Regions from separate parts of the Homo sapiens genome. Here all the other regions are linked to region 4. Evidence: fine-mapped expression QTL. A gene starts in region 4. Each other region holds a variant in brackets. All regions are shown on one strand. Distances are from middle to middle.

Region 1 (6,418 bases), 69 kb before region 4:
CGGTTCACCACTGTCTATGAAATGGTCCTAGTCAACTGTGGCACAATTTGTCTGGCTTTAGCATGAGCCAGAGGAGCCTTGTTCTCTCTGACCTGGACAGCCTATGATTTTCTTTGATAATAATGCTAACCCTAAAACATTTAGCGTATTTTTAAAACCTGATTTAAATTTGAATGTATACAATGTCATTAATTGTAAGCTATCAGTAAAAACCTTTTAAAAAGTGGACTCTAATCCTTAAATATATCATTTCCAACTTATATCTCATATTTAACTCTTTTCAGAGAAATTAATGACCTGTGACCTATTATAGTGCTATTTATTTATCATGGTCAACACCACTCACGTGGCCTAGACCACTTTTGGCTAAAAATATCCGAAGGAATTAACAGGACTTTTTAGAGCCATGCTTTCTTCTTCACTAAATAAAGGAATTAATTATATTATTTATTTATTTATTTTTTGAGATGGAGTTTCGCTCTGTCATCCAGGCTGGAGTGCAGTGGCGCGATCCTGGCTCATTGCAACCTCTGCCTCCTGGGTTCAAGAGATTCTCTTTCCTCAGCCTTCCAAGTAGCCGGGATTACAGGAACCCACCAACATGCCCGGCTAGTTTTTGTATTTTTAATAGAGACAGGGTTTCACCATGTGGGCCAGGCTGGTCTCAAATTCCTGACCTCAGGTGATCCACTCGCCTCAACCTCCCAAAGTGCTGGAATTACGGGTGTAAGCCACCGTGCCCAGCCAAAGAATTCATTATTAATGAGAATGTCAAATAATCATTAGGTCAAAAAATAAAAGGGAAAAAAGAATCAAATTTGAGCATGTGTATATGAAGTTCAAGAGAGTGAGGTGAAGAAATCCAGTGGAGGCCGGGTGCGGTGGCTCACGCCTGTAATCCCAGCACTTTGGGAGGCTGAGGTGGGTGGATCACGAGGTCAGGAGATCAGGACCATCCTGGCTAACATGGTGAAACCTCATCTCTACTAAAAATACAAAAATTATTTAGGCATGGTGGCGCTCGCCTGTAGTCCCAGCTACTTGGGAGGCTGAGGCAGGAGAATGGCGTGAACCCAGGAGGCGGAGCTCGCAGTGAGCCGAGATCGCACCACTGCACTCCAGCCCAGGCGACAGATCGAGACTCCATCTCAAAAAAAAAAAAAAAAAAATTCCAGTGGAATTCCAAAAGCAAGAGAATGTGAAGAAACAGTGATTTTTAGTGTTTAGACTTCAAATTACATAGTAAAGGAGAGAACAAATCAGTCATAGGAAACAGGTTTGGTTCCATCAAAATATCTGAGAAAGAAAAGCATGATTTTCTACATATAGAACCTTGTAGGCAGAGAAATTATGGTCACCATCTACTTGGGCTATAGAACACAAAATACAAATATGAAAAAACTTTTTTTTTTTTGAGACGGAGTCTTGGAGTCTCGTATCGTTACTCAGGCTGGAGTGCAGTGGCGCGATCTCAGCTCACTGCAACCTCTGCCTCCTGGGTTCAAGCGATTCTCCTGTCTCAGCCTCCTGAGTAGCTGGGACTACAGGCATGCACCACCATACCCAGCTAATTTTTGTACTTTTTAATAGAGATGGGGTTTCACCGTACTGGCCAGGCTGGTCTTGAACTCCTGACCTCGTGATCCACCCAGCTCAGCCTCCCAAAGTGCTAGGATTACAGGCATGAGCCACTGTGCCCAGCCAGAAAAAACATTTTCTTAATGACATATATTTACATATTAATGAAGCCCCAGAATGTCCTGCTATTCATAGGGAGAGACCTTTCTTTCTGAGGGTTTTAAAAGGTTTAAAAAACCTTTCCCAACAGCTGAGCTTTTTTTTTTTTTTTTTTGGAGGCAGGGTCTCACTCTGTTGCCCAGGTTGGAGTACAGTGGTACAATCATGGCTCACTGCAGCCTTAACTTCCTGGGTTCAAGTGATCCTCCTGTCTCAGACTCCTGTGTAGCTGGGACCACAGGCACGTGCAACCATGCCAATTTTTTTTTTTTTTTTTTGTAGAGATGGGGGTCTCATTTTGTTGCCCAGGATGGTCTCGAACTCTTGGACTCAAGCAATCAATCCTCCTACCTCAGCCTCCCAAAGTGCTAGGATTACAGGCATGAGCCATTGCATCCACCCCACCAACCCTGCTTTTTTTTTTTTTTTTTTTCCTGAGCAGTTTTGGTTATATCAAAAGCAAGACTTCTCAAATAAAACAATGATCTGATTACAGAACACAAACCAAGCCCAGGAAAAAACCCTTTATCCTCTATGGGGTATAATTCTCCATTTGCTTGCAGAGGCCTTGTCATGGCGCCAATACCCTTGTAGCCTTGTTAATCTCCAGGCTTTGTCTGTCAGGTGTGGGAGCCCTGGCCAGAGGAGTGCCACCCCAGACCCTAGACACTGAGTTCTGTAGGAAGACCCCCTGAAACTATTGCTATGGAATAAAAGATGAAATGCTCCTGATTATTGTAAATACAAAGTTGCACGCAGGATTGTGTAAAGACAATGCCAGGTTGGACTGCCAGAATGAGCCAACAGCATGTGATGTGCTTCCCCCTGCAGAGAGCCTATGAACGGACGTGCAGTCAGGGAGGTTTCACATCACCAAGATTCCTATCCCAGAAAAGCAGATGTTCATAGCTCTGGGAATGGAACGTGACCCTTGTGGAGAGCCTATAAACGGACGCATGGGGGGTGCCTGTTCATATGGATAAGACAGGGCTATAAACGCCCTCATCTTGCCTTCTAGGCCTCTTTAGGGTTAAGGCATACTCCCTTCTGAGAATTTCTGGTCTAACTGGCTGTCTAGCTTCATGGCCTGTTTCTATGGATTGTTTGTAACCAGCTTTTGCTGCAACTGTTACTGCTGATTAATATCTTGCTAATCATAGGTTATGGAAAGACTGTGTTTTCTGTTTTAAGGCTCTGTTAAAAATTACTGACACACACACTATATTGTAAATTCTTATCTCTGTATACTGTACTTCTGCATACAGATGTTATGTTAAAGAATTACTTCATCCCCATGTGACCATCTCACTTCATAATCAAATGACTCTAAATCCCTCACTAACCTACTCCCACCCTCACTAAACTTAACAATAAATGCTGGTAAATCCAGTGCATTGGCGGCATCGCAGGACCAGAAGGCAGTGACCCCCCAGGACCCAGCTTTCACTATCTTGTGTGTGTGTCTATTATTTCTCGACTTGCCGATCCGCCTAGGAACAAGGAAAGAGCCCCGTTGCATTGCAGGATGCTGGCCAGATCCCGCAATAGAGTTCCTTCTGGCGGGGGTCACTGACATAACAGTGATCCAAGAGTGAATTCCCTGTGGTGCTTGGTTCAGTGGATGGTTTTGACTTTACTGCCGAAAGGATTCTAGTAAAAAAAAGAATCCTGTTGTTCTCACTTGATACAGCATCTTTAGAGGAAGTGCATTATTATGGGCCAAATTGTTTCCTCCTAAAATTCATATTTGAAGCCCTAACTCCCAGTACTTCTGAAGGTGACTGTGTTTGAAGATAGGGCCTTTAAAGAGGTCACTCAGATTAAATGAGGTTATATGTATTACAGGTGGGCTCTATCAGTCTGACTGGTGTCCTCATAGGAGGAAATTTGGACACACA[A/C]AGAGACACCAGGGATGTGCATGCATGGAGAAAAGACCATTTGAAGACACAAGGACAGGGAGAAGGTGGCTGTCTGCAAGCCCAGGAGCGAGGCCTCAGGAAAAACCAGACATGTGGACACCTTGTGCTTGGACTTCTAGCATCCAGAACATAAGAAAATACATTTCTGTTGTCTAAGGCACCCATTCTGTGGTGCTTTATTATGGCAGCCCTTGCAAACTAATACATATATTAAAATAAAACGAGCCAGAAGTGGTGGCCTGCACCTGCAGTCCCATCTACTTGAAAGGCTGAGGCAGGAGGACTGCTTTGAGCCCAGGAGGTCGAGGTTACAGTGAGCTGTGATTGCACCACTGCACTCCAGCCTGGGCAAGAGTGAGACCCTGTTTCTAAACACAGACACACACACCCCTAAAACAGATCTATATTAAAATGCTTTGTCTTGATGTTTTTATCAGGTCTAAAACAAGGCTTTTGGCAACATGAGACTCATACTTGGTCCAGAACTTTGAAGCAGCTGCATTTGAAAGACTTTTAGGTTTTCTTCGCTTGTCACCAAAATCTGTTACAAATTCCAATGTGCAATAGAATTTGTGTATTAAAACAAATTTATATGACCAATGTCTGAAATAGTTTGCTTAAGGAAGCCCTTAATCACTTCTATGTGTCTTAAGAAGTTTTAAGGTTACGATTTTTATGCTTTCGTCACACCTATAGGAGGGCTTTTTCTTTTTGTTTTTTTGAGATGGAGTTTTGCTCTTGTCACCCAGGCTGGAGTGCAATGGTCTGATCTTGGCTCACTGCAACCTCTGCTTTCTGGGTTCAAGTGATTCTCCTGCCTCAGCCTCCCGAGTAGCCGGGATTACAGGCACCTGCCACCAAGGCCAACTAGTTTTCGTATTTTTAGTAGAGACAGGGTTTCACCATGTTGGCCAGGCTGGTCTCGAACTCTCGACCTCAGGTGATCCACCCGCTTCGGCCTCCCAAAGTGGTGGGACTACAGGCGTGAGCCACCGTGCCCGGCCAAGAGGGCTTTTTCTAATTTCCTGGATAGATCATATGAGCAGGTGGTTTGGCATGGATGGCTTGGGTCACGGAGGGAGATGGACAGCGCAGGGGTGTGGTTTGTGGCAGCTCTAGCAGGTTCCCCTGCGGAGGAACATGCCTGGAGCAGGGAACCAGCCAGCGTCGCTGCAGCGGTGCAGGAGGACGTCACCGCAGGCGCCATGGGTGGAGGGGGTGGGCAGGAAGCCATGGATCTGAAGACTTGGAGGATACTCGGTGACCGACTGAAAGGGGCACCCAGGGGACCTGTGAAGCTCCGCTCAGGGGATGAAGCAGCTGACGGCCCCACCGGAGACGGGGCCTCTGGGGGAGCGGCAGCTGGGGACGGAGGGCAGGTGCGCTCACTTTTGTACACCATGAGCTTAGTGTTCCCGAGGACCACGCAGGCTGTGCAGCAAGCAGGTGCTGTGAGTGGAGATGGAGGCGCTGACTCTAAACACGAGAGTGAAACTGGACAGAGAACACCAAGTGAGAAGTAGGTCAAAGAGGGAAAGATGGAATAGGGCAGCAACTCCCGCTGGGGGCAGAAGTGGAGCCCCCAGAGGAGACTGACAGAGGCGGAATTGAGGGGAAGAGAAGTGGGTAAGCAGCGTCTCCTGTTTTAACGCACTTCTCCAGAACACGTGCAGGGCAAGCACATGTTTGTGACAATCTTCTTGCGATTCTATGAGGAAGGTTCAGACCCAGACTATGAGGAACACGGCTTTCAGGACAAGGTTTCCAAGAGAGACTGAGTGTCGTGTCAGTAAAGAGCTGGTAAAATTAGGGCTGGACCAGGTGGTGGGGGCGCTGAGGAGCTCGGCAACAAGGTTACCAGCAGAATCCTCGGAAAACAAGAAGCCGATGGCAAAGCCAGGTGGGAGAGGCAAGGAGAAGAGGGAGAAATCGGTCAGACGGGTTGTTTTCACTAAAAATGAAAAAAAAAAAAAAAAACAACAACTAGCAGAAAGTTGGACGTGTTTTAAAATGGAAAGCATGGAGAGGGAGGGTTTAAACACAGAAGGGAAAATAAAGAGGAAAGACTCTCGAACAGACAGGAAGAAGGCGGGGTGAGGCTGTAACTAGGTTCGAGGTGAAGGTACAGTTGGAGAAACTGTGGGAGACACCAAGGGGCTACGGCGCTGCCCGAAAGCTTGGGCGGCCTTCTTGATGTGCGGGGCAAGGAGGCAAATGCAGACAGAATGCCGCCCTTAGCCGGCGAGCAGGACGACCCTGCGGCACGGCTGGGTCTCTAGAAATGACCTGGGCAGATAGAAGGCATGGGAATGGCAAAAGGCCATTTCTCCAGCAGGAAAACACTGCAGTTACCTAGCTTCCCGGTCTTGGCTACACGTCCCCCTCCTTCGCAGCTGCCTGCGGCTATCATGACTCATGGAGGAGACTTCTCCCCGGGGTTCCTGGTCACTGGGGTCTCACAACATGCGCAACGCAACTGTTTCTGTCCCGGGCCACACTCAAGCTAAGGAGACGGACCCCTGCTTCTAACCGCCTGCCATGCTGAGGGACGCTTTCCTGGAGAACTTTCTGGGAAAGCCGCAGCAGCGCACCCCTCAGGACGGCGGGATCCAAGCCCTGGAGAGGGGTCTTTTCTCCACCGCCCTCCTCACTTGGCAGGCCTTCCTTGTCACTGTCTCCTTCCTCGGCTTTCCACCCTCCCTCCCTCCTAAGTCTTTTCCTTTATCACTCCAATTTCATTTTCCCAACTGCCTCTCCACTGT
Region 2 (6,458 bases), 31 kb after region 4:
CTTCCTTCTTTCCTTCCTTCCTTTCTTATTTCCCCTTCCTTCCTTTCTTCCTTCCTTCCATCTCCTTCCTTCCTTCCATTCTCCTTCCTTCACTTCCTCCTTCTTCCTTCTCTTCTTCCTACCTTCCTTCCCTTCTTTCTTCCTTTCTCTTTCCTTCTCTTCCTTCCTCCCTCTTCCTTCCCTCTTTCCTGTATTTTTTCCTTCCTTCCTACTCTCCTTCCTTCCTTCTCTCCTTCCTTCTTTCCTTTTTTTGGAGAATCCAGAATGAGGACGTTTCAAAGAGGCCATGCCAGATAATGCAATGATCTTTTATTAGGAAATTACAGTCAGTGATTCAGTGCAGGAAAATGAGTCACTATATTAGGCTAAAAGCAATAGAAATTCACAAAAGTAACAGGGATGAATGTTCTACCAGGAAGGGAACAAGTTACTAAAATAAAATGCCATTGTTCTTAAATATAACCCACTTCTAACTGTGCAAGATTTCCAACTGAGAAATTTGAACTCCCTGATGATGCCCTTAAATTCTACTATTGTTTTTATGCTGGGTACAATGTGACATATTTTAATAAAAAAAGTAATATAATATTTCATATGACCCTCTTTTGTATACATAATTGTATTTTCCCCCTTTATTAAAATTTAATATATATATATATATTTTTTTCTTGAGACGGAGTCTTGCTGTGTCGCTCAGACTGGAGTGCAGTGGCATTATCTCAGCTCACTGCAACCTCTGCCTCCTGGGTTCAAGCAATTCTCCTGCCTCAGCCTCCTGAGTAGCTGGGATTACAGGTGCGCACCACCACCATGCCCGGCTAATTTTTTGTATTTTTAGTAGAGACGAGGTTTCACCCTGTTAGTCAGGCTGTTCTCGAACTCCTGACCTCGTGATCCATCCACATCGGCCTCCCAAAGTGCTGGGATTACAAGCATGAGCCACCATGCCCAGCCCTAAAATTTAATATATTACTGTCCAAGACATTATTAAAATGACGTGCATACTCGGTGTCTCTCAGAAAATAAAGTTCCAAGAATGATGATGGGTCATTTGACATTTGAAGAAAAGCATCTGTTTTTGAGAAAATTTTCTTTCCTTAACACATTTATTCATTGAATTCACTCACTCTTTCAGGTGTTTTGCATAGTTCTCTCTGGTAATAAAGTGAAGGAAATTTACCTGAAGATCAAGACTGTTTCTTGGCCGGGCACGGTGGCTCACGCCTGTAACCCCAGCACTTGAGAGGCCAAGGCAGGCAGATCACTTAAGGTCAGGAGTTTGAGACCAGCCTGGCCAACATGGTGAAACCCCGTCTCTACTAAAAATACAAAAAAATTAGCCAGGCGTGGTAGCACGTGCCTGTAATCCCAGCTACATGGGAGGCTGAGGCAGGAGAATCGATTGAACCCAGGAGGCAGAGGTTGCAGTGAGCTGAGATCGCCCCAAAGCACACTCCAGCCTGGGCGACAGAGTGAGATGCTGTCTTAAAAAAAAAAAAAAAGGACTGTAAAGACTGTTTCTTGTAAGTTGCATTGTCATCATAAAGCTGGATAGGGACTCAGAGCCCCCAGTGGCATTGAGGACACAGAGCTTGAGAGAGAGAATTATATGGTGGGGGACATAAGAGAACAAGCCTAGTTCATAAAAATTACTTTCCTAGGATTCCCGATATTAACTCTTTCCAGCTCCCTGAAGAGAATTGTAAAGGTTTCCATTCTGTTGAATAGAAAACATGAACCGAGTGAGGTGCTCTGCTAGGGAGCTGTGGGAGATGCCAGGCCGGTAGTGTAGTTGTTGTCCTCTGGGAGTTTGCAATAAAATAGGGGAGAAGAAGGTTTTGGTCTGGTTTTTTTGAGACAGGATCTTGCTCTATTATCCGGGCTGGGGTGAAGTGACACCATCACAGCTCATTGTAGCCTTGACCTCCTGGGCTCAAGCAATCCTCCCAGTTCAGCCTCCCAAGTAGCTGGGACTACAAGTGCATGCCACTGTGCCCAGCGGGCTCTCACTATGTTGCCTAGTCTGGTCTTGAACTCCTGGCTTCAAGGGATCCTCCCACTTTGCCACCCCAAAGCACTGGGATTATAGGCTTATATGAGCCACCACACTCAGCCAAGAAAAGACTTTTGATCAAGACTCTCATTAGAGACAAGCAATGGAAGTGCAATAATTAGGGGCACAAACAAAGTACAACTGGTCAACTGCAAGATAAAGAAATATAGTCATTTGACCAGGTAGGTCTAGGAAGTCAGTGAGTAGGATGTTAGCAGGTCTCTGAAGGTGGTTAGAATGTTGACCGATGAGGTACTGAGAGAAAAAAGGGAAGAGATTCCTGTGCTGGATCAGGCACAGAAGATGAAGAATGCAGGGTGTAGAATGGCTTGTTTAATTGGCCTGGCCTTGGGAGCCAGATGGTGTGAAAGGGAGGGGCATGTAGTGAATGGTGATGCTGAGAAAACCAGCGGGAGGCAGATGCAGTGTCTTGAAGCCCTTTTGGATCTTAGTATTTATTGTAATGGAGCGCCACTGAAGGTTTTCAAGGAAAGAAATGACAGATTGATATGTGTTCTTTAGAAAGACAGCCCCTGGCAGGAGTGTCTAGAATAGACTGTTGCAACAGAGCCATGACTTGCACAATGCCAAGGAGACCATTCACAACTCCATGCAGTGCAATGTGAATGGTGCCTTTTGGAATTATGTGGTGGGCAGCCCCAGGGAGTGGAGATGTCAGAGACAGAGTGATAGAGGTAGCAAGTAGGGATCTTCGATTGCAAGCAACAGAAACCGACCCTAATTAACTTAAGGAGGAAAAAATACATTGGAAGGATGGGGGTCATTCAAAGAGTTAAAAGATAAGAAAATACTTAGAGGAATCAGAGCTACTTCATAGATCTAATGGAGAATCTCTTCAGGATATTGCCATGGGGACAAATTACTT[T/G]CCATCACTTCCAGTCTTTTTGACACTCTACTCAAGAGTCAAGTTCCAGGGAGAGAGGATGATTGATTTATTTAAGGTCATGTGCTCTCTCCTTGGCCAAGAGACTATAAGGGCATCTTGGCCGAGTGCTGTGGAGCCCCTGGGAACAGTTTTCAGGTGTGGTTTGGCCAATTTCTTTTTTTGTTTGTTTTTGCTTTGGCCAATTTCTGTGAGACAGCACTGCAAAGATACCATCTCAATACTTGGCACAAAGGAAGTCCTGAAAAAAGTGATATTTTCCCCCTTTTCCCTGCAGGGAATCTTTGCAAATGTACCCCTTTACTTGAGATAAAGCATTTTTATTTATTTGTTTATTTATTTATTTATTGGAGATGGAGTCTCCTTCTGTCGCCAGGCTGGAGTGCAGCGGCACGATCTCAGCTCACTGCAACCTCTGCCTCCCGGGTTCAAGCAATTGTCCTGCCTCAGCCTCCTGAGTAGCTGGGACTACAGGCGTGTGCCACCACGCCCAGCTAATTTTTGTGTTTTTAGTAGAGACGGGGTTTCACCATGTTGACCAGGATGGTTTCGATCTCTTGACCTCATGATCTGCCCACCTCGGCCTCCCAAAGTGCTGGGATTACAGGCGTGAGCCACCTCACCCACCCTGAAATAAAGCATTTTAAAACATGCTCAAAGATTGAAAAAAGCTCTATAAGGAAAAACATGTTTATCATATATATATATATGAGCGGTTGCTGTGGAGCTAGCTGAGTTCCCTCTGTTTGCAGTGACTAACTTTATTAAGGCATTAGCAAACCTTGTTCCAGGAAAGCCTTGCCTTTCGAATGAAAATATCCAGGATTGGGTGAACATAGCTTGAGTCGCCCTATTTGGGTAATGACTCAGATTAGATATCCAGCTCTCAGTAATGTTAGTGTTTGCTTGGGTTTATGAAATATTTTATTGATCTAGGCATTTTGCTTTTTTTTTTTATTCTCCACCTGTTTGTGGGTAGATTTTTATGACTGGTATCAAATTCCTTATTTTACACGTGGACCTATATTTCATGCTTGATATTTGATAAAGGAAATTGAGCTGTTCTTTCTATTGCTTTAAGAGCAGTAGATCCTGGGGGTGAATGCTGTTGTGTGACACATCAAGACCAGCAAAAGCACAAGAGAAATGAGCTTTGAAAAGAGAGGTAATTACCTAAAATTAGATAAAGCCAAAACTGTTCTGTTAGGTAAATCCTGCTGCTAAATTGCCTTTAGCAAGCTAAGCATGGGATAATATTATGTTCTACCAAAAAAAAAAAAAAAAATCTAAAACCTTAGCCACAGGAAAGTGTGCTGAATATCAAGTGTTTTCAAGCGTTCTCTTATTTTTCTTTATTACTTTCCTGACTTGAAAAAAGACATGGCAAAGTGTAGTGACAATTGATTTAGGGCATGGGAAAGGGTGACCCGATTTTTAAAAATGTTCTCATAAATCAACAAATTAGTCTCCTTGAGATCATGAAGTGATGTTTCTGAGAAATTAGTGGCCTCATTCTGGAACCTAGTGGACAGGCTGTGTTTTCAAAACTAACAGCTTGTTCTAGTTGCCTTGCTTTAGTTGAAGGCTTAGTACCTCTACCAAAAGCTTCAAAGTAACGCAGGCATTGAGCTTCCCCAAGAAAAGGGCAGTAAAACAAACAATGTAGAAGCAAAGAACCAGGTGTCTTGGCAACATTGTAATTATGGCTGCTTGTGACGTTCTACAGGGATTTCTTCTTCAGGACTATGAATTTGGCCCATCAGGAGAACTTTGGCTAGCTAATACCTGCTGGGGAAATGTATGGGATCAGATCTCTGATTTATGAGATCCCTTCCAAGTGGGATCTGATAAATTATTAAAATAATAATTTTGAAATCTGTAACAATTTGAGAAAATACTTATGTCATAATGTTCCATGAAAGAAGCAAGATTTAAAAAATAAACTTTTCCGTGATTACAACTGTGTAATAATTATGGATATGTACAAACAAAGTCTCTAAAACAATAGCTAAAAATGAAAAAGGCCAGGTGTGGTGGCTCACGCCTGTAATCCCAGCACTTTGGGAGGCTGAGGAGGGAAGATAGCTACAGCCTGTGTTCAAGACTAGCCTGTTCCCATCAGCAGTAGACTGGATAAAGAAAATGTGGTGCCTGTACACCATGGAATACTACACAGACATGAAAAAGAATGAGATCATGTCCTTTGCAGAAGCACAGACGGAGCTGGAGGCTATCATCCTATGCGAACTAACATAGGAGCAGAAAACCAAATGCCATATGTTCTCACTTATAAGGGGGAGCTAAAGAGTGAGTAGATACGGACACAAAGAAGGGAAAGACAGACACTCGGGCCTACTTGAGGGTGGAGGGTTGGGGGAGGGTGAGGATCAAAAAACTACCTATTGAGGGCCAGGCGCAGTGGCTCACGCCTGTAATCGCAGCACTTTGGGAGGCAGAGGCAGGCAGATCACCTGAGGTCAGGAGTTCAAGACCAGCTTGGCCAACATGATGAAACCCTGTCTCTACTAAAAATACAAAAATTAGCTGGGCATGGTGGCGCATGCCTGTAATCCCAGCTATTTGGGAGGTTGAGGTAGGAGAATCGCTTGAACCTGGGAGGTGGAGTTTTCAGTGAGCCGAGAATGCGCCACTGCACTCCAGCCTGGGCAACAGAGCAAGATTCCATCTCAAACAAACAAACAAACAAACAAACAAAAAACCAAAAAAAAAAACCAACAAACACACACAAACCCCAAAACCCTACCTATTGGGTACTAGGCTTATTTATTACTTGAGTGACAAAATAATCTGTACACCAAAACCCCATGACATGGAATTTACCTATATAACAAACTTGCACATGGACCCTTGAACCTAAAATAAAAGTTTTTTTAAAAAAAGACTAGCTTGAACAACATATAAAACAATTTAAAATTTTTTTTAAAAGAAAAACATTTAATTTCTGGGGAGATTTTAGAAAACGCTTAGTTGATTTTGCCTTAATTCTGTTGTAGTTGATGCAAAAAGCAAAAGAAAGGCAAGGTGACATTCAAAATATTTTGTATGCTGTATTCTACACTGTGGAGGCTGCTCTAATAAGCAGCTGTAGTAATTACAGAGGGCACCAGATGGTGGCATGTAAACACAGCTTAGAGAGCCAGGTGGGCACTGGGCTTTTCCCACTGGGGTTCCAGAGTGGCCTCTCCCCCTCCAAGGTCTGGGCCCAGTCTGTTTGGGGGAGTGTCAAATGCAGATGGGAGCTGTTGGAGGCCCAGAATGTTGCTGGAGAGGGGTAGACACCAGGGCAGCCCTTCAGAACGCCCTACCTCAGCCCAGAGCAATGGGTGTGTTGGAGGCACTTGATGTGTTCAGGCATCATCTCCAGGTTTTAACAAGTGGCACAGCTGTAACAACGCCAATGAGCTGATAGGAGCCCTGATTACCAACAGTCTTGAAAGAGAGGGCCTGAGAGAATGCTTGCAAAGTTCTTACTTAGTGTAA
Region 3 (6,458 bases), 23 kb after region 4:
CATCTTCTACTGGACCTGAAGATGGGTCTTCAATTACTGTCAGCATTTAAAATTTAGCAGTACTTGATGTCCTTTTTAGACCCAGGAGTCAAAGCCCTGTAACTCAATGTCACAAGTACTTTAAAAGTGCATACAGAGAGATACACGGATGTAATAACCTGAATTTAAAAAAATTTTAAATCTCAGTTTTTTCCTAAGCAAACCAAAACTTAATAATAATGCGACAACTTGACCATATAAAAGTTTTTGGTTTTTAAAAAAATAAATCCTCTTATTGTGACTTACACAGATGGTTCATCATATGCTTGGACTTTCTGGTTTGTCCTGAACATCCCTCCTTCTTAAACAACCAGTCATTTTACCCTAGGACTAAATTTATCATACAAGATTCTTTCTCATATGAAATTATTTCTCTTTAAGTTTCTTACCAAAAAAAACCCTCATTATTTTTATAACTTTCTTTACATCTCTCTTATTTCCTGGTTCCTTTTACCTTGTTTTATACATGACCTTTAAATAAGCTTTGAATTAGACAAAAAATTGTTCAAATGTTTTTTTTTTTGAGACAGAGTTTCGCTCTTGTCACCCAGGCTGGAGTGTAATGGCACAATCTCTCCTCACTGAAACCTCCACCTCCCAGGTTCAAGTGATTCTCCTGCCTCAGCCTCCCGAGTAGCTGGGATTACAGGCACCCGCCACCATGCCCAGCCAATTTTTTGTATTTTTGGTAGAGACAAGGTTTTGCCATGTTGGCCAGGCAGGTCTTGAACTCCTGACCTCAGCTGATCTGCCCACCTCGGCCTCCCAAAGTGCTGGGATTATAGGCATGAGCCACTGCGCCCGGCCACTGTTCACCATTTTTTTTTTTTTTTTGAGATGGAGTCTCGCTCTGTCCCCCAGGCTAGAGTGCAGTGGCGTAATCTCAGCTCACTGTGAGCTCCGCCTCCTGGGTTCATGCCACTCTCCTGCCTCAGCCTCCCGAGTAGCTGGGACTACAGGTGCCTGCCACCATGCTCGGCTAATTTTTTGTATTTTTGGTAGAGACAGGGTTTCACCGTGTTAGCCAGGATGGTCTCGCTCTCCTGACCTCATGATCCACCCGCCTCGGCCTCCCAAAGTACTGGGATTACAGGCGTGACCCACCGTGCCCAGCTAAGTTCACCTTTTTTAAAAGGACAGATTTTTTTTTTTTTTTTTAGAAATAATGTTTTCCTATAAATATATTTTTATTGGAAAATACCCAAATAATGAAATATTTATCATTTAGTTTAATATAACTTTAGATTCTAAATTATGAGTTTGTCTACAAGTATTTATCCTATTACATTTACCTAATTATTTCATTTTAATTGTTTACCTAGATTATTTATGAAAACTGTGATAGTCATCATTTAAAGCTATGGAACCGCCATTGCAAAATTGTAACTGAGACGTGAAAAGATTTGACCTAACTGACTCCATTTTGCTTTTAACCTCCAAGGTGTCCTTGTTCATTCCTGGGCATAGGCCAAACTAACTTTGGGAGGAACTTAGTTTATATTTTAGCTTGAAACAAAGATGATAACAAACCTTACTGGCTGTGGACTAGACCACCTAAAGCCATAAGATTAGAAGTTATGGTAATCTTACTAAATTTGAGATGTAGCTATTTTTATTAAACCAATATCAATGTCTTATTTATTAAAGACTACACAAGCAAAGATCATTCTGTTTTGGGTTGGGTTTATAGTTTTGTAACCCCTATGCCAAATTTTGATGCTTTGTAGTATCTGGTAGGGATAGGTATGAAATTGAATCTCGGTCTCCAAAAAGGGAGAATTATTATGAGGCTAGACCATGTGATGCTCTTACAGTGCACTTAAAGAAAAAAACTTTTTTTTAACAAACATATTTCTAAGTGTCTAAACCACACTCTTCCTTAAAAACCCGAGAGTAACCTCTGTTGCAATAACTATTTTAGTTGAAAAACACACCAGGTAACACAATACAAAAGTAAGCCGTTTAAGAGCTGAGATGAACTTGTCTGTTTACATTCTTGGGGTTCCATAAGGAAAAACAGGTTTCTCCCTCAGAGGGAGTCTGGCGCCTTCTCAGTTTTCTTTAAGGAACCCCAGGCTATTATAAACTATTTTAGGTTACCCATGCTACAGAGAGTGCAAGAGAAAGAAGACACAGCAGAAGTAAATGAAGAAAACAGAATTCGGTCAACTGAGAAGAAAAAAACTTTTGCTGAAAAAAAAGACAAGATCCTAGGGGAAAAACAAAAGCAAAAATATGAAGGCCTTTTAAATACAAACACACACACATGCACACATACACACACACGCACACATACACACACGCACACACACACGCACACATACACACACATGCACACACACACCCACATGCACACATACACACACGCACACGTACACACACACGCACACATACACACACACGCACACATACACACACACGCACACATGCACACATACACACATGCACGCACACATACACACACGCACACATACACACACGCACACATACACCCACGCACACATACACACACGCACACATACACACACGCACGCACACATACACGCACACACATACACACACGCACACATACACACACGCACACATACACACACGCACACATACACACACGCACACACACACACACGCACACATACACACACGCACACATGCACACACGCACACATGCACACACATACACACACGCACACATGCACACACATGCACACATACACACACATGCACACACACATACACACACGTACACACACATGCACACACATGCACACATACACATATGCACACACACATGCATACATACACACACGCACACATACACACACACTTCTTGAATGTTAGCTTTTAATTAAGCTGACTTTTCATCATTGAGCTCCTTTAAAAAAAATCTTTTAAGATCTCATCACCATATTTCAGCTAGGACAAATTGCTGCTATTTCAGAAGTACAGCCATTGCTCTCTTGGTTGGGCCT[C/G]GCTAGCAAAAAGGTGGCCTTGTTATGTAAATAAAGTCCCTTAGTAGTCAAAATGAAAAATCTTTCCTCTTTTTTTTTGGTTTCCTTTTCCGGCCGTTTTTCTCCCCCACCATACCACCTTTTGTGTGTGTGTGGGGGGGGGGTGGCGGGGTGGAATTTAGCCACTTCAGAGGCCTTGTTCCCCATAATTTGGAACTTTCCTTTGGATTTGATCAAGCCGGATAGAGTTGATCAAACCCAGTGGGAAAAAGACTGAAACAACAACAAGAACAGAAACAAACGACAACAACAAAAAACGCAGTTAAGCAAAACAAATGATCGCACAACTTATACAACTATTGAGCGCTCTAGTGGTGAGGAGAAATTAAGACAAGCTGGTTGTTAATCTTAACTTTAGCCAAGACAAACCCCAATTCAGTTACTTACCTAGGGATGGGTCTCAGGCTGAAGACTGCTCTCTATCACCCTAAAAGCAGGAAAAAACCCTCATCCTTCTTGTTGGAAGTGAGCTCAAACTCCATAAAGGAGTTACCTGCCTTCCGTTGTCATGGAAGCAGGAAAAACTTGCCTTCCTTGTTGGAAGCAAGTAAAACTCAAAAGAAAAAGGGAGTTGTACAGCAAAATAAACTTTAGATCTTGACCAAATTTTGGGAGATCAGGGATTCTCTGGAGGGGGTTCTCCCAGACCTCAGCAAATTGTCCTATTGGCTTGAGCCATAAAATTAGCTCATGCTGGTTCCAAGCACCAATAGATTTGTCAAAGGTCAGGGGCACCTCCGCTCAGAATCCCTTCATGGTTACCAAAACTTGAACCCAGAAAATTTGAGACAGGTCTCAGTTAAATTAGAAAGTTTATTTTGCCAACATTGAGGACACACACTTGTGACACAGCCTCAGGAGGTCCTGATGACATGTGGCCAAAATGCTCAGAGCACAGTATGCTTTTATACATTTTAGGGAGACATGAGACATCAATCAACGTATGTAAGGTGAACGTTGGTTCAGTCCAGAAAGACGGGACAACTCAAAGTGGGGAGGGGGCGTCCAGGTCATAGGTAGATAAGAGACAAATGGTTCCATTCTTTTGGGTTTCTGGTTAGCCTCTCCAAAGAAGGTAATCAGATATGCATTTATCTCAGTGAGCAGAGGGGTGACTGAATAGAACGGGAGACAGGTTTGCCCTAAGCAGTTCCCAGCTTGACTTTTCCTTTTAACTTAGTGATTTTTGGGGCCCCAAGATATTTTCCTTTTACACACTTTTAAACAACCACATCTCGCGAGGACAGTACCAAGAGAATGATATTTAACCATTCATGAGAAATCTGCACCCATGATCCAATCACCTCCCACCAAGCCCCATCTCCAACACTGGGGATTACATTTCAACATGAGATTTGGATAGGGACAACATCCAAACTATATCAGACTGGGTCTTGCTCTGTTGCTTAGGCGGGAAGTTTGACAGTTTCCTACAAAGTTAAACATACACTTACCATATGACCCATTAATCCCACTCCTAGGTATTTAAACCCTAGAGAAATGAAAGCTTATGCTCACACGAAAATTTGTGTGTAACTACTTATAGCAGCTTTATTCACAATCACCAAAATTGGAAACAACACAAATGCCTTTCAACCAGTAAATGAATAAACAAACCATGGGAACAGTCATACAATGGAATAGTACTTAGCAATAAAAAGGAATGAACTATTGATACATACAACACCACGGATTAATGTCATACACACTGAGTCTTAGGAGGTTACATTCTCTATGACTCTATTTATACGACATTTCAAAAACCTAACACCACAGTGACTGAAAACAGATCAGTAGATGCAGAGATTCAAGGGAGGGAGGTGTGACTATCGAGGTATATAAGAGGGGATTTTGAGGGGGTGATAGAACTGTTGGATAGTCTGATTTTGGTGGGGGCCACACAAATCTATACATATCTTAAAATTCACAGGAAGATTTTTTAAAATATACATATATATTTAAACAAAAAAGAATGGAAAGACACACGTGAAAATACCAACAGTGGGTTATTTCTTTGCAGTTGAATAAAGGTGATAGTTGAATAAAGGTGATTCCCCCCTTTTGACTATGTAATATTTCTATTTTTAGAAATAATGAACACACGTTTTCTTTGTAAAGAGATGTCATCGGCCGGGCGTGGTGGCCCATGCCTGCAATCCCAGCACTTTGGGAGGCCAAGGCAGGCGGATCACCTAAGGTTGGGAGTTCAATACCAGCCTGACAAACATGGAGAAACCCCATCTCTACTAAAAATACAAAATTAGCTGGGCATGGTGGCGCATGCCTGTAATCCCAGCTACTTGGGAGGCTGAGGCAGGAGAATCGCTTGAACCCAGGAGGCAGAGGTTGCGATGAGCCAAGATCGCACCATTGCACTCCAGCCTAGGCAACAAGAGCAAAACTCCATCTCAAAAAAAAAAAAAGAGAGATGTCGTCGTATAGAAAGGTAATATATATATTTATTTACGTATGTAAATGCATTTTGCTATTGGACTAACTTGAGTGATGCCTGGCCTTGTTTCATACTGGTTCAGCCTTCTGTGGGTAAAGGAGCTTCACCCCATTACTGGAGAAACATCTTTTGGATGAGATGTTTCTTTTACTTATAGAAGAACTGGCAGTGCTCTCATCTCTCCATCAATCTTCTGCTTTGCCATGGGCCATAGCGTGAAAAGTGCTGGCCTCCACTGCCTCATTAGGTTTCCCATTAGCATCCATTAACCAACAACTTTCATTTCTTGGTGTGCAGCCAGCATTCCTTAGGAAATGAAAAAAACATCGACGTGATGATGCCATCATCGACTAAATATCGGCTTCCCGTCCTCATCAAGTCTGGATTGTCTTGCAGGACTTTCATCAAGTATTAAGTATTAGGAAGCTGCCAGGAGTTCCAATGGCACTTGGCTTATTTGATTTTGCTTCACAAAAATAAACAAAGTTACACTGGGCGAAATTTTTAAATTGTTTTATCCAAAGATCTAGAGAGAAGAATGTAAACCAAGTGCATTTGGCCTCCTTAGTCAGTTTTTGCAGCACCCACGACAGAATTCTGAGATTCTGAGGAGCAGCATGGACCTCAGATGCACACCCCTAAGGGAAGATGGCAGTCAACACTCCCAGCCACGCTGGGGGATCCCAGCCTCCCGCATCCATTCCTGCCATGACTACCAGCAGTAAGTGAGGCCACAGGCATCCCACAGGGCAATGCTGTTTTTCAAAAATCCACAGTTGTTATCAGACACTATGCTTCAAGTTGGCAATTTGGTAGAGCAATTGTCTGCCTTTGAGAATGACACCACACAGCACAAAGATATCACTAAAGCCATTAACAGGCATTTGTAACCTCTTAAAGATTTGGCCTCGACTCCCATTATTAGTTCTGGAACCTAAAATAAAATCAAATAATTCTTT
Region 4 (6,458 bases):
CTTGAGTAAACCTTAAATATCCTTAGATATTTTTTCAGATACAAGGTTTTGCACAGATGTATAAACATGTCATTCAAGATAGCTGACAACCTAAAAAGAAACTGCAAAATGTTATGAAAAATTTAAAGCTTATCTAATGCCCTAAAATAACCTCAAAATTCACAGCTATAGTAAAGCTAACTGTAATAAACACCAGCTTAAAAAAATCAAACTTAATAAATAAGCCTATTTATAGATTGTAAACGTTTGTTGAACGATTATTTGAATTGTTGAAATCATTAAAGGTTTCAAAGAGATCCTCATCCCCCAAATGTTAAGTTTTAAATAAACTTAACGAAATAATTGTGTATGTATACTGTAAAGCCCTACACCATATAACCTAAAAGCAGGTTACTTTATTTACGCCTCTTTTACTAGCAATTAAACTGAAAACCTTGAGTGTGAATGTTGTAAGAGATCAAAGTTTTCAAGACTTGCCCTAGGAAAACACCAGTTTCTCCCACCATTTGCCCCTTTTAAGTGTTTAAAACCATCTCAGAGAAAATAGTGAGACCTCGTATCTTTTTTTGTGTATTAAAATCTTTTACACTTAAAACTCAGAAATCAAGTGCCTCAACCATTACAGCAACTCTTTATTAATGCACTTTGTGTGGCTCTGGGTGTTATACTCCACAAATAAGGAACCAACTTCTAATTGTGAAGCGAGATATCAAAGTCCTAGAAAGAACAAGCTCTCCTAACCAACTAGAAGGTTCCAGGAAAATGCAATTAAACAGGAAGCAATGAAGTTAAAAGCTAATGGAAACTGTTAACTAGGCTGAGTGTTGCTCACATGTAGGGAGTCGGTCACCCGCTTCCTCAGCGTACATGTTACAGGGCTGTGAGCGAACACTCACGCGTGGACCTGCATACATCCAACTCCAAAGCTCTGAGGCGTGAAGCCCAACTCCAAGGGCGCTCCACACGGTCCCTGTTCCAGGAAAACTGAATACAGCTGCTCGTGCCACTTGGCCCGCAAGACGGGAGGCGAGTCTGAGGCCCACTGCGTCCTCCAGAAACTACCCTTGCAAGGGCTGTTTCAGAGCCCCCCACCCACAGCCCAGCAGACCCCAAAAGCTTCTGGGGAAACTCAACCCCACCCGCTGCTACGCCCCCTTCCCTCGCTCCCACCCGAGGATCAGCTCCCCCGGATAGGGACGACTTCCCCTTCCAACAGTGCATCAGAGGGCTCGTCAGGCCTCACCCACCTTGCACTCGTCGCTCTTTTTTTCTTCGTCGCAGAAGTTGACGGGCGCCAGGCCGGGCAGGTAGAAAGCGCCGCTCCGGCGCGGGCCAGGAACCGCCCCCAGCAGGAGCAGCGACAGCAGCAACAGCCGCGGCCACCGAGGTGGAGACAACACCGGCAGCCTCGCGCTCATGATAGTTGTTTCGGGGAAAGGGCAATCAAACCTAGGGGGTCAAGAGGGAAGGAGGGGTGGGGAGTCTCGGAGACGACTACAAGGCCGCCAGAGATAAAGGAAGCCGGCCCCCAGAAGGCTAGTTCCGGTTGCGCTAGGAGACACCCCGGGTCCCGCAACAGAAACCGAAGCGGACCGCAACAGAGCATGCGCACCGCCGTCTGCACATGCTCAGTGAGAACGGTCGCAGGCACCAGGAGGAGTTTCCGGGAGGGAGCGGGGGCGAAATCCACTTTCCGGGTTTTCCGCGCGCCAGCTGAGGTGGTTGCTGGGAGAGGTGGTTGCTGGGAGAGCTGTTCCGGCGCTCACGTTCCAATTCCAAATTACAAATTCCGATCTAGAGCTCCCACGCTTGGGGGCTGTGGAGCGCTCGCCAGCCGCTCCCCGTTTGCTGCTGGGTCTTACGAAGTTCTCATATCCATCATACAGTTTCTTTGTCACACTGTCCGCGGCACGCCAGTCCCTATGACAGAAAGCACCTGCGGTCTGTCTGGAGGCGGAGTTGGTGGCGGAGAGAAAAAGTTCTGGAGACACCTGGTTGGGAGCAGGCTAAGGAAACAAATGGGGAGGAATTAGCCACAAATCCTCAAATAGACAGCTACTCAAAGGCATCTTCACGGACAATTTCCAAGCATTGGATGCAGTGGTGCATTCTTGCATTGGGCAGTGATTGTGTGCACACATCTCTTTAAGGGAGAGTGGAAATGGGGTGAGGAGGAAAATGGGAGTAGGATAGAGTGTAGCGTTGACATTTATTTTCTTTAAAGGAAGACCCGAGCATACCTGAGAGCTCAGTGAAGAAAGTAGTTCTGGCGAATCGGATTAATATGGTATGATCAGCCTTTAGCAAGATTCTATCACTTTTCCCACTGATGATGTGAGACGGTGTCCGCGTGTGTAAGTGCACACACGTGTGTGTGTGTGTGTGTTGCATCTTCTGAGTATTTTTCAAGGAGAAGCTTTTTAGTGATCTGAAAAAGTCAATTCAGTTAGCCACTAGAGTTCAATCAAAAACTTCGGAAGAGTGCATCATCTTAAAGTACATAAGAGAGAATCATGACCTCCAGCTCAGAATTCAAGAATAGGCAGGTTTGTGAAATAGTAAGCTCAGAAAGTTGAGGGCCAGTGAACTCCTATTTCAAGTTCTTGCGGGTGTTTGTACTTTTTTCCCAGGTAAGGTTTATAACTTTCATCAGATTTTCAAAGGGACCTAGGACCCTGCAAATTGATCCATATAGTGGGGTAGCCAAGTTAATCAAGAGAACTGGGAAGTAGAAAAGAACGTTCATCTTAAGGTTGTTGTGAAGATTAAATCAAAAATGGAGGGAAAGTGCTGAGCACATAGCTTGGCCCAAGGAATGGCACTTTTTTTTTTTTTTTTGATAACAAAAACTAATCTGGTAGGGCCTGAGCAGAAAATTGTGCCTAGGTGGCTTCCCTTTCATGTCCTCTCCCTCAAATAAATCAACATATTCGCTGAACTTTGGGATAGGGAAAAATTGTAAAATATTCTGTATTTGGAAGTCATGGAGATTTCCAATATAACAAAAGGAAGCAGACGTTTTCTCCAAATATTAAGAGGAGGAAACAAAAATTAACATTTTTGCTCACTATCTTCTTTTCCTAGCACCACTGAAACTTGACCTTCGGCCGGCGCGGTGGCTCACGCCTGTAATCCCAGCACTTTGGGAGGCCGAGATGGGCGGATCACGAGGTCAGAAGATCGAGACCATCCTGGCTAACACGGTGAAACCCCGTCTCTACTAAAAATACAAAAAAATTAGCCGAGCGTGGTGGCGGGCTCCTGTAGTCCCAGCTACTTGGGAGGCTGAGGCAGGAGAATGGCGTGAACCCGGGAGGCGGAGCTTGCGGTAAGCCGAGATCGCGCCACTGCACTCCAGCCTGGGCGACTGAGCACGACTCCGTCTCAAAAAAAAAAAAAAAAAAACAAAAAAAAAACTTGACCTTCATTATATCTCACTGCCCTCATCCCAAACATTTCCTCTCCCAGTTTTCCAGGAAACGGCATCGCTGCCCATCTCTTTTCAGGCCCCAACCCTGGAGAAGAACCTAAATTTCTCATTTCCTCACTACCTACCTCCAGTCCTTCAGCAGGTCCCGTTGGTTGGGCTGCTAAACTATGGGCTAAATCCTTTCAGTACTTTCCATGCCCACAGCTACCACTCTGGTCCAAGCCAAATTCTTAGTTCCCCTGGACTTCTTACTGCAGTAGCCTCTCAGCTTCCACTCTTGGCAAAATCAATTTTATAAAACCTTGAAATCCCTTAATACCACTCGTCTGCTTAAACCTCGGCATCCCACATTTACCACTATCAGGAAGGATCACGTTTGTTTGTTTGCTGTCTCATTCCCCCATTTATATGTGAATTCCACGGGTAAGGGCCTGCTCCTACATCCCACACCTCTACATCCACAGAGCCTAGAGACCGCAGGCGCGGGGAAAGCACTCCACGACCATCACTGGCCAGGCCACAAGAGTGCTGGATCTAAATTTGGAACCGGACTTTCAGAGCTGAAATAAACCTGAGGTTTTCCAGGGGCTTTTAACCTCCTTTTACAGCCAAGGATGCGCCTAAGAAAGGGGAGAGGCTTCCGTGACTTCCTGCAGTAACGCAGCCACTAGAGATTGAGACTACAACGACTTGGGAGTCTAAAAGTCTGCAACCTTTTCCACTCCAGAGCTCAATGTTTCCTCAATCCCCCGGGATCGGCATCAGCAAAAACCCGGAGAAGCGGAGCCTTTCTCAAAGAAAATGACCTCCAGACTCATGCTACCATCTCGACCGGTGCAAGTATCACGCATGCGCAGGGCCGGCCGCCCGGCCGCACCTCGCCAACTCCTACTCGGACACGTCATCTAGGTCGGCCTGGGTCTGGTGGGAGGGGCCGGGGGCGGGGCTCGTACGCGGGGCGAAGTGGTCCCCCTACTTCCGGATCCGGCCTCACCTGGCCAACGCCTCATTCGGGGTTCCTTGGTTACGTGGCTGCGGTGTCTACCCGGTGCTGGGGCGTGGCGGAGAGAGACCGCCCCGCCCTCCACGCAGGCCACAAAATGGAGGCCCTGCCCTGTGGGCTTTTGTGGCCTGGGCGCTGTCGTGCCGAAAGACGAAAGTGACAATTCCAGTTGCAAACTGGAAAGAAATGGAGTTTTTCCTTCATTCTCCCCATGATCGTGACGGTCCTTTTCTCAAAGTACTAATACTTTTAATGGGACTGTAAAACTTGAGGGATATGACTCTCTCCTCTCCTCTGCTTCAGATTGCATTTGCCAACTCTGATTTACCGCCAATACTATGGTGCTGTCATATTCATAGAGACAGAAAGTAGAGCAGTGGTTGTAGAGAGAGTCTGCAGAAGGAGGGATGGGGATTTACTGTTTAATGGCATACGGTTTCAGTATGGGTTGGTGAAAAAGTTGGGATGAATGGTGATGACTGCACAACAATGCAAATATGCTAATGTCACAGAAGTGTACACTTAAAAATGGTTAGACGGTAAGTTTTCTATTATGTATATTTTACCACAATTTTTTTTTAAATGCAACAGAGTCTCGCTGTTGCCTAGGCTGGAGTGCAGTGGCAGGATCTCAGCTCACTGCAACCTCCGCCTTCCAGGTTCAAGCGATTCTTGTGCCTCAGCCTCCCAAGTAACTGGGATTACAGGTGCCAGCCACCACGCCCAGCTAATTTTTGTATGTTTAGTAGAGATGGGGTTTCACCATGTTGGCCAGGCTAGGCTGTTCTCGAACTCCTGAACTCAGGTGATCCGCCTGCCTTGGTCTCCCCCAGTGCCGAGATTACACGCGTGAGCCACCACGCCGGGCCCCACAGTTTTTTGTTTTTGTCTTTTAAATTTTTTTTAACAGCATTTGTGTCTTTTTTTCTTTTTCTTTTGTTTTTGAAACAGAATCTCACTCTGTCACCAAGCTGGAGTGCAGTGGCGCCATCTTGGCTCACTGCAACCTCTGACTCCCTGGTTCAAGCAATTCTCCTGCCTCAGCCTCTCCAGTAGCTGGGGTTACAGGCACGCACCACCCCGCCCAGCTAATTTTTGTATTTTTAGTAGAGATGGGGTTTCACCATATTGGCCAGGGTGGTCTCCATCTCCTGACCCCGTGATCCACCTTGCCTTCCCAAAGTGCTGGGATTACAGGTGTGAGCCACTGCACCCAACCTAAATGGCATTTGTTTCTTCCACTCCTCTCTGCCAGAATAATTTGGACAGCCTTTTCTGAGTTTCCCATGACGACTTCTGTATAAGATTGTCGGATATAGCAAATAAAAGTACAGTATACCCAGGTAAATTTTAATTTCAGATGATCAATGAATAATTTTTTAGTATAAGTACATTCCAACTATTACATGGGACATAAGGGTATTTTATCTGATCACCCTACTTTTGTGTCAAGTTAAAATTATTAGCAAAAGTGCTTCCGTTTTTAGGAAGTGCACACTGTACTCTAGTAGTTAGGCAGGAGAACAGGGTCTGCGAGCAGGGAACCTAAGGCCGTTTCACACTGACTTCCTAGAGCCATTTGGAAAGGAAAACCCTAACTTTCCACTCCTAAGTAACAAAAGGCCCAGAGGCCACTCCCTTTGCAAACCCCCACCTTTTCTGTGCCGCAGCTGGAAAATTGAAAGTGCCTCTGATTGGTTGCTTTCTGCAACTAATCAGATGTTTGCATAGAGTGTAACTTTGTAACTTCACTTCAGCCTCTGATTGGTTGCTGTCCCCAACCAATCAGACTGATTGTGGGCCAAGGCTTCGTTTGAATAGAAGTGCAACTTTGTAACTTCACTTTAGCCTCTGATTGCAGGCCACCACTTCATTTACATGGGGTGAGCACCAAGTAAGTGGCCAATGGGAAACATCTAGAGGGTATTTGGACCCGAGAAGATTCTGTATCTGGGGCCCTTGAGCTGCTGCTCAGCCTGCTCCCACACTGTGAAGTGTACTTTCACTTTCAATAAATCTCTGCTT
Region 5 (6,458 bases), 48 kb before region 4:
GCTGGTAAACACCCACTGTTAAGAGTAGGATGAAGAACATCAATCAGAGAAGGGTTGATCAGAGACATAAAAGAAGAACCAGCACAGGATAATTTTTATGAAGCCAAAAAAGGAAGGAGTTTCAAGAAGGTATTCCAATGTTAGACAATACAGAGAAAATCGTTTCTGGATTTGAAAATGGGAACATTATTGGCAAACTTAAAAGTTTCAGTAAAATGATGGAGAAAAATACGAATGACGTGGCTTTACACTGCAAATGTTTACTGAGAAAATGAGAAGAAAGGAGTAGAGACTATTTTTTTCAAGGCATTTTGTTGGGAATAGAAAAGAAATGAGATGGAAATAAGAAGGGAAGATGTTTATGATCCCTTTTTAGGGGAGACATGAGCCTATTTGGAGGAATAAAAGAACCACATAAGCAGAACATGTGAGAAGGGAGCAATGGAAGATGTGTGAGACTAGAGGGAGAGGTGCCTGAAAAGCAAGATTCGGAGATTCTGCAGGAAATCACAGTCTTGGTAAGGACGGACACCTTCGTGAGTTGACAGAGGGAAAGAAAACAAAGGACATGGCTTGAGAAAAGCATAGAAATTTGAATAGAACCGATAACTGAGAAGAATGTGAATCTTCGGTGGAGGTGATAGAGAGAATATTTATCCCAAATGTGTATTAAAATGCTGCTGCCATCACGCTTGCATTTCTAGCCTGCAAATGGAACAGTTCTGGTTTCTAGACTTCATCATCCTTGGCTTTCTTTATTGCTGTAGCCTGTTCACGTGTCAGTTCTTGCCCACCAGAAATGTGCAGGTTTGGGAGGAAGTGGGTTTTGCTTCTAGGACCAGAACCGCATCAGATAATCGAGAGGAGAAGCAGTTCCAGAGAGTGAAGGATTTTTGTTTTGTTTTGGATTTGTGGTGGCTGCTTATTTTTTATTTTTGGTGTATATTACTTTACTTAATGGAATAAACTCTAAAAAATGGCAATGCTTTGGATAAAAATGGGAAAACATATGCTTGCCTGAACTATCTTCAGGATTCCTTCCTGTGCCTGGCTCAAAAGCTTTAAATGCAGCCTACAGAACAACATGTCAGACTGACCACTAAAAACCAAGAAACAGAAAGACTTTGAAGAGAAGGAATTAAAACATTTCTCATGTCTAAAGGTACTTTCCCCAGATAAGACATGTGGTAATCATTTGGCAAACGTTTATAAAATATTTATTTTACCCCTTTTCAAAAATTAAATTTACTTTCTTAGGTACATGATTTAGAGACACGGAGGATTAAAGACTCAACGACTGAAAATTTGGGGACTAACATGTAACTATGTTAAGAAAGTAATTCTTGAAAAATTCACTTACCCAGGACAAAGAAATGATGTTAATAAAACATTTGTTTTCCACTTCTCACCTCCAAAGGCTATAGAAGAAAACAAAAGTTGTATAAATACAGATTTTCTTTAAAGCAAACCAAATATCCATATTACAAGTCTGATATTTGCCAAACTGTCAGACAGCAATGAGTACTCATTCCTAGAAAATGGTACTAGCAAATATAATATGATATTCCTTTATTAAATAATCCAAATCTGAGACATACAGGATGGGATTCCCTAGGTAAGTCCTGCTCTAGAGAATCAGAGGCAAGTCATCAAGATCAGTTCTTCTTTTCCCCTCACAACCAAAAGAATCCTTAAATCCTGAGCCAGTATCAATCAATGGGCCTAGGCACAGGAAGGGCACACGGGATTCTCACTTATCTTGCAGTCAGTTTCAGAATTTGTTATAAAACTGGGAACCGTCAAGCCTGATGTGCAACACATTTACACTTCCACAGTAGGCCAACTCTTCCTCTAGCACTGTGGTTTCTAGGAGGAACTGTGGTTCCTAGGAGGTGCGTGTGTCAGATGAGGCAACTAAGAAGAGTAGAAGGGTTATGACCATTTGACAGACCATGTTTGCTAATATATGTTTTACTCTCCTTTGCCCCTCTCCAACTTGCTTTTTTTTCCAGTTTAAAGAATTCAAATACTGAAGTAGCTAGAGTGAAAAATGAAAGTACACGTCTGCTCCCAGTTTAAGTCAGAAATGAAACTGGCTGAGATCTCAGAACAGCTGTGATTTTTAAAAAAGTTTTAACATAGTTGATAGGCAAGTTTAAGTGCCACTTGCCCTAAAAGAAAATAATAAAATTACATATACACATAAGATCATATATATGTATCATGATTTGAACTCACAATGTTTCTGATAAACAGACTGTTATGAAATGATTAATTCTGGGTTTACTATAATTTCAGTCAAAATTCAAGTAATACAGGATCTGCAGCTGGGAGACCTGAAGGATGGGGAGGCATTAGTGAGTGGAGTGCAGATGGGAGCAGGGTGTGGGAAAGCAGGCAGCCTGTCCGAGGAACCGACAGAAAGCCTGTGTGGCTGAAATGGTGAGAAAGGGGGAGTGTGGCATGAAGTAAGGCTGGTGTGGCAGGCAAAGGGCTGACTGTATTTTGTATGCATTAAAATCCGTATGATGGCCCTAATCCTACCTCCTTTAGTAAAGGGGAAGAAAGAACTTGACAAAATTCACAGAAATTAAAACACACTTAAAACACACATACATACAGGGCTTCACATACTCAAGAGAGAACTGTGTCTGACAAGGTCTAAGTTAATCTTTTACTGGGGGCTGAGACTACCCAACCCCACATTAAGGTTGTCCACGTAACTCTACTGTGCTTCACCTCAAAACTTTTTCACATTGCTAGACCGTGGGGAATCACTGTATATCCCAGACGAGACTGTGGCATTCCCGAGGAGGCCAGCTCTGGTCCCTGCTGACCCTGCCAGCTGCTTTCTAAGCCATCCAGTCCCATCTCAGCCTTACTCTGTGGCCGTGAGCCTTTTGTTTCACTGAACTTTATTTTACTTCTAGAATGCAAGAACACAAGAGATTGTGACTAATGATATTACAAAAGTAACTTTCCAGGTCTCCAAAATAATGAGATCTTTGTTTACTTGAAACAGTGTATTTTTATAAATATTAAATTGATACAATGTAAGTATGACTTCTCATATGTAAGAAAAGGTACACCTAGATGTACTAGTTGTTTTAGTGAAAAAAATCAGTGATACTCATTTGTATACTTTTCTCCTTTATTAGTCTATATGTGCTTCTATGAACACAGCAAATCTAAGCTGTTCAGCCCAACCTGTTAGCCAAAGCTTAAAGAAAAAAAGAGGGAGGGGATAGTGGATAAGTGGCACAATTTGCTTGTTTCACTAAACATTTTCGAACAAATAAATTTTGGGATAGTAACTCATGACACAAAAGGAATCACCAAGCAGGCTCCTTTTAACTAAGAACAGACCCCTATGAGGCACACTATTTACAAAGCATCACCATCTGATACCCAGGTCAGATCCACAGCCGCAGCAGAGTCCCTTCCTGATCAGACGCCAGTCACAGTGGCTTTGACTTACACTTATAGAATCTGGCAGCAACATAGCCTGCAGGGGTGCCCAGCAGCACCCACAGGACCACAGCACACGTCATCAGCGCTCCTCGGTTGGCAGGTGACAAAAATCCCAGGCAAGCGAAAACTAAAACACAAATC[G/A]TGAAAGGCTGTACATGTTATTACTCTGTTTCCTTTGCTGTGAAATGATAGAGAAACCCTCTCATTTTTCAAACAAGAAAAAAATACAACTTCACGCAAAACCATGTGCTCTCCTACCATGCAGCTCTACACAATCTTAGTAATATTTACTGTACTGCACCAATCTGATCATACATGAGGCAAACTTCACTTTGGAAGTTTCTTCTCAGAGTCCAGAATGAGAGATCACATCCTTCCTGTGATCAGGGGAGGCTGACTGGATGCTCAAGAGTGCATTTGACTCTTCTGAGATTCAAGTACAGCCTTTAAAATTGACATAAGTGAAAATGTTTCCACTACAAAATATTCCCACTGTTCTTTCATTAAAAAATATGGGGGTCCTCTGGGGGTAAAAAAAAAAAAACCCAAAACCTTACAACATTCAAACAGAAGAGACATATATAATCTAATGAAAGAACAAAATGAGGGAGAAAGATTTCATACGGCCATTAGCTTTTCACAAATTACGGAAGGACCTTGTCAGCAATACGGGGAAACCCTGGCCCTACCTTATTCACGTGGTTAGCTTTGTTTGCTCTTCCCTATGTAAGCCTTCCTACTAATGAGAATTAAAATGCTATATTATATTCATAGAAATTCCCAGCTTTAAGCTGGGGCTCAGAAGTTATAAGGTGCTCAGAATCCCAAGGTGAGTAGGATACTGCTGAGAACTGAGTTTCAGGAGGCTCAGCAAGAAAATCCCCATTGTTTCCCCCCCTATTGTTTCCCCTAAAACGTGCATGACCAAGCACGTATGTGAGCAAGCACGCGCACACACCTCTGACAAGCACCAGAGTCATGATGAGCAGGAAACACATCAGGGTAGCTTTAGAAGATGTACAAGATTTCAGCTAAAATGCAACCCCTTTCTCCTCCTCGACCTGAAAAATGGACTGCCCTTCGGCAGAAAGTTCCTATTTGAGGACTTAAGGAAAATTATTCCCATCGTATTCTATCCTAGACTCTCTGAAACTTTCCTTCCTTAAAAGTTCACTTTTCTAGCTGACCGCAATAAAAACCAGAGCATCGCAGAAGACAGCTCCTAATAAGATTTGAAAGCAGGAGTTGGCTGGGTGTGGTAGCTCACGCCTGTAACCCCAGCACTTTGGGAGGCCGAGGCGGGCGGATCACGAGGTTGAGAGATTGAGACCATCCTGGACAACATGGTGAAACCGTGTCTCTACCAAAAATACAAAAATCAGCCAGGCGTGGTGGCAGGCGCCTGTAATCCCAGCTACTCAGGAGGCTGAGGCAGAAGAATCACTTGGACCTAGGAGGTGGAGGTTTCAGTAAGCCAAGATCACGCCACTGAACTCCAGCCTGGTGACAGAGCGAGGCTCCGTCTCAAAAAAAAAAAGAAAGAAAGAAAGCAGAAGTTTATCTTCAAACATTCATTCTGCTCTAAGTCTAGTTTGGCTCTCTGTCACCCAGTGCCTTCACCCTACCACCCTCTGTCCAAACCTTTTTTATGACACCTTTTCCTGACCTATTCTCTTTAGTATGACTTAACTTCTCTTTAGTATGATATAGTTACAAATTCTAGCTCTACCTATCAAAATTGTATCTCCTTAAGTTGTTAGTAGATTAAAAAAAAAAGATATCCTAGTCAGTCTTCAAACTGAACCTGAAGGTGTGAGTTTGGTTCCCAAACTTATTCAGTGCCAGACATTTGAAAATGATACTGCTCTTTGCAAAGCATTTATATAATTAATTTTATCATAAAAATTTGGAACAACTTTACTAACAAAAATAACTGTGGTATTATGTATTTAATATGTAATCAAACATAAAAAATAAATGTTTACTAAAAAATTATTAAAGGTTAGTTTCTGAATTCTCCCAGTATATTCATTTGTTGCTATTTATCAGTAGCAGGCATCAATAAAGTAAAATACATTAAATAAAGGTAAAATTTAGAAAATTCTATTCATAAACCTTTTTTATCTTCCAATTAAGGAAACTGGAAGACAGTGGAATTAACATATACCCAGAGGTAGTTTCAGAACAATCCCTGTGGCTATCAATACCTCTAAGGAACATTTATTTAAAAAAAAAAATTGTCCTAGTTGGCAAAAATTTAAATACAATTTCTGAAGTCGCTGAGGTAGCTCAAAGAAGAGAATCTTTTTATGGAGGAAGGAAGGTCTTTCCTACACACTCGCTTTCCCTAGAGGAGAGAGATCCTGCTTCCCAAATCCTCCCCAGATGAGAAGGATCTACACAGTGCTTCCTGCCCCATCCCTTCTTTTCCCACCCTCCTCCCTCCGTGGAAGCCAAGAATATCCTGGAACCCTAACCAGACTGTGCCTGCCCACGATGCCTGGGTAAAAGAGACCCTAAATGGTCCCAGTTCTGGGCTGTTTAGACTCAGATGCTGATGGTCTTAAGGACCTGTTCATCTCCAGCCCAGTGCCTCCCTGACAAAGGCTTGGTCTAGGAAGAGCTGAAGGGAGAAACCAAGAGTCAGTCTTTGGGTGCAACTAAACCTGCCCCAAGTCACTTAGATTTTGAGAACCTAAAGGATGCTCAGAAATAATCTGGCTTACCTACCCACTTAGAAAAACTGTGGTGTTTTTTGTTTTTTTTTTTGAGATGGAGTCTTGCACTGTCACCCAGGCTGGAGTGCAGTGGCGCAATCTCAGTTCACTACAACCTCCGCCTCCCAGGTTCAAGCTACTGCCTCAGCCCCACAAGTAGCTGGGATTACAGGCACCTGCCACCATGCCCAGTTTTTGTATTTTTAGTAGAAAGACGGGGTTTCACTATATTGGCCAGTCTGGTCTCAAACTCCTGACCTTGTCATCCAC

Which allele goes with the higher level. Alleles are on the strand shown, and positions count from the first base shown. SD is a standard deviation of normalised expression in the study named. Not every link is listed here.
With allele A in place of G in region 5, the expression in caudate of the gene that starts at base 3,719 in region 4 is lower (small effect, 0.26 SD a copy in GTEx).

The links.
Region 1: its variant is fine-mapped to the expression of LINC01232 in whole blood (TOPMed, PIP 0.93).
Region 2: its variant is fine-mapped to the expression of LINC01232 in whole blood (TOPMed, PIP 0.99).
Region 3: its variant is fine-mapped to the expression of LINC01232 in whole blood (TOPMed, PIP above 0.99).
Region 5: its variant is fine-mapped to the expression of LINC01232 in caudate (GTEx, PIP above 0.99). The same link has a PIP of 0.9 or more in cerebral cortex, hippocampus, hypothalamus, nucleus accumbens, prefrontal cortex and putamen.

What each region holds. Positions count from the first base shown.
Region 1 is chr13:99,565,381-99,571,798 of GRCh38, reverse strand. No RefSeq gene overlaps it. Among named protein-coding and RNA genes, the nearest start is that of LINC01039, 8.5 kb to the left of the region's middle. RefSeq lists an enhancer at 4,457-4,956. The variant A/C (reference allele first, on the strand shown) is at 3,636.
Region 2 is chr13:99,465,307-99,471,764 of GRCh38, reverse strand. No RefSeq gene overlaps it. Among named protein-coding and RNA genes, the nearest start is that of LINC01232, 31 kb to the left of the region's middle. The variant T/G (reference allele first, on the strand shown) is at 2,940.
Region 3 is chr13:99,473,274-99,479,731 of GRCh38, reverse strand. No RefSeq gene overlaps it. Among named protein-coding and RNA genes, the nearest start is that of LINC01232, 23 kb to the left of the region's middle. The variant C/G (reference allele first, on the strand shown) is at 3,009.
Region 4 is chr13:99,496,567-99,503,024 of GRCh38, reverse strand. It overlaps LINC01232 (long intergenic non-protein coding RNA 1232), which reads left to right and starts at 3,719. Exons shown (of 5, transcript NR_110731.1): 1 at 3,719-4,339; 2 at 5,689-5,776. TM9SF2 (transmembrane 9 superfamily member 2) reads right to left here and starts at 1,553. Exons shown (of 17, transcript NM_004800.3): 1 at 1,248-1,553. The coding sequence starts at 1,418. It overlaps LINC00449 (long intergenic non-protein coding RNA 449), which reads left to right and starts at 1,962. Exons shown (of 2, transcript NR_133664.1): 1 at 1,962-2,630; 2 at 3,085-3,302. RefSeq lists enhancers at 1,173-1,761, 1,668-1,847, 4,126-4,245, 4,256-4,465, 6,437-6,458.
Region 5 is chr13:99,544,125-99,550,582 of GRCh38, reverse strand. TM9SF2 (transmembrane 9 superfamily member 2) reads right to left here. Exons shown (of 17, transcript NM_004800.3): 11 at 3,479-3,598; 12 at 1,361-1,418. Among named protein-coding and RNA genes, the nearest start is that of LINC01039, 30 kb to the left of the region's middle. RefSeq lists enhancers at 2,159-2,208, 4,156-4,305. The variant G/A (reference allele first, on the strand shown) is at 3,613.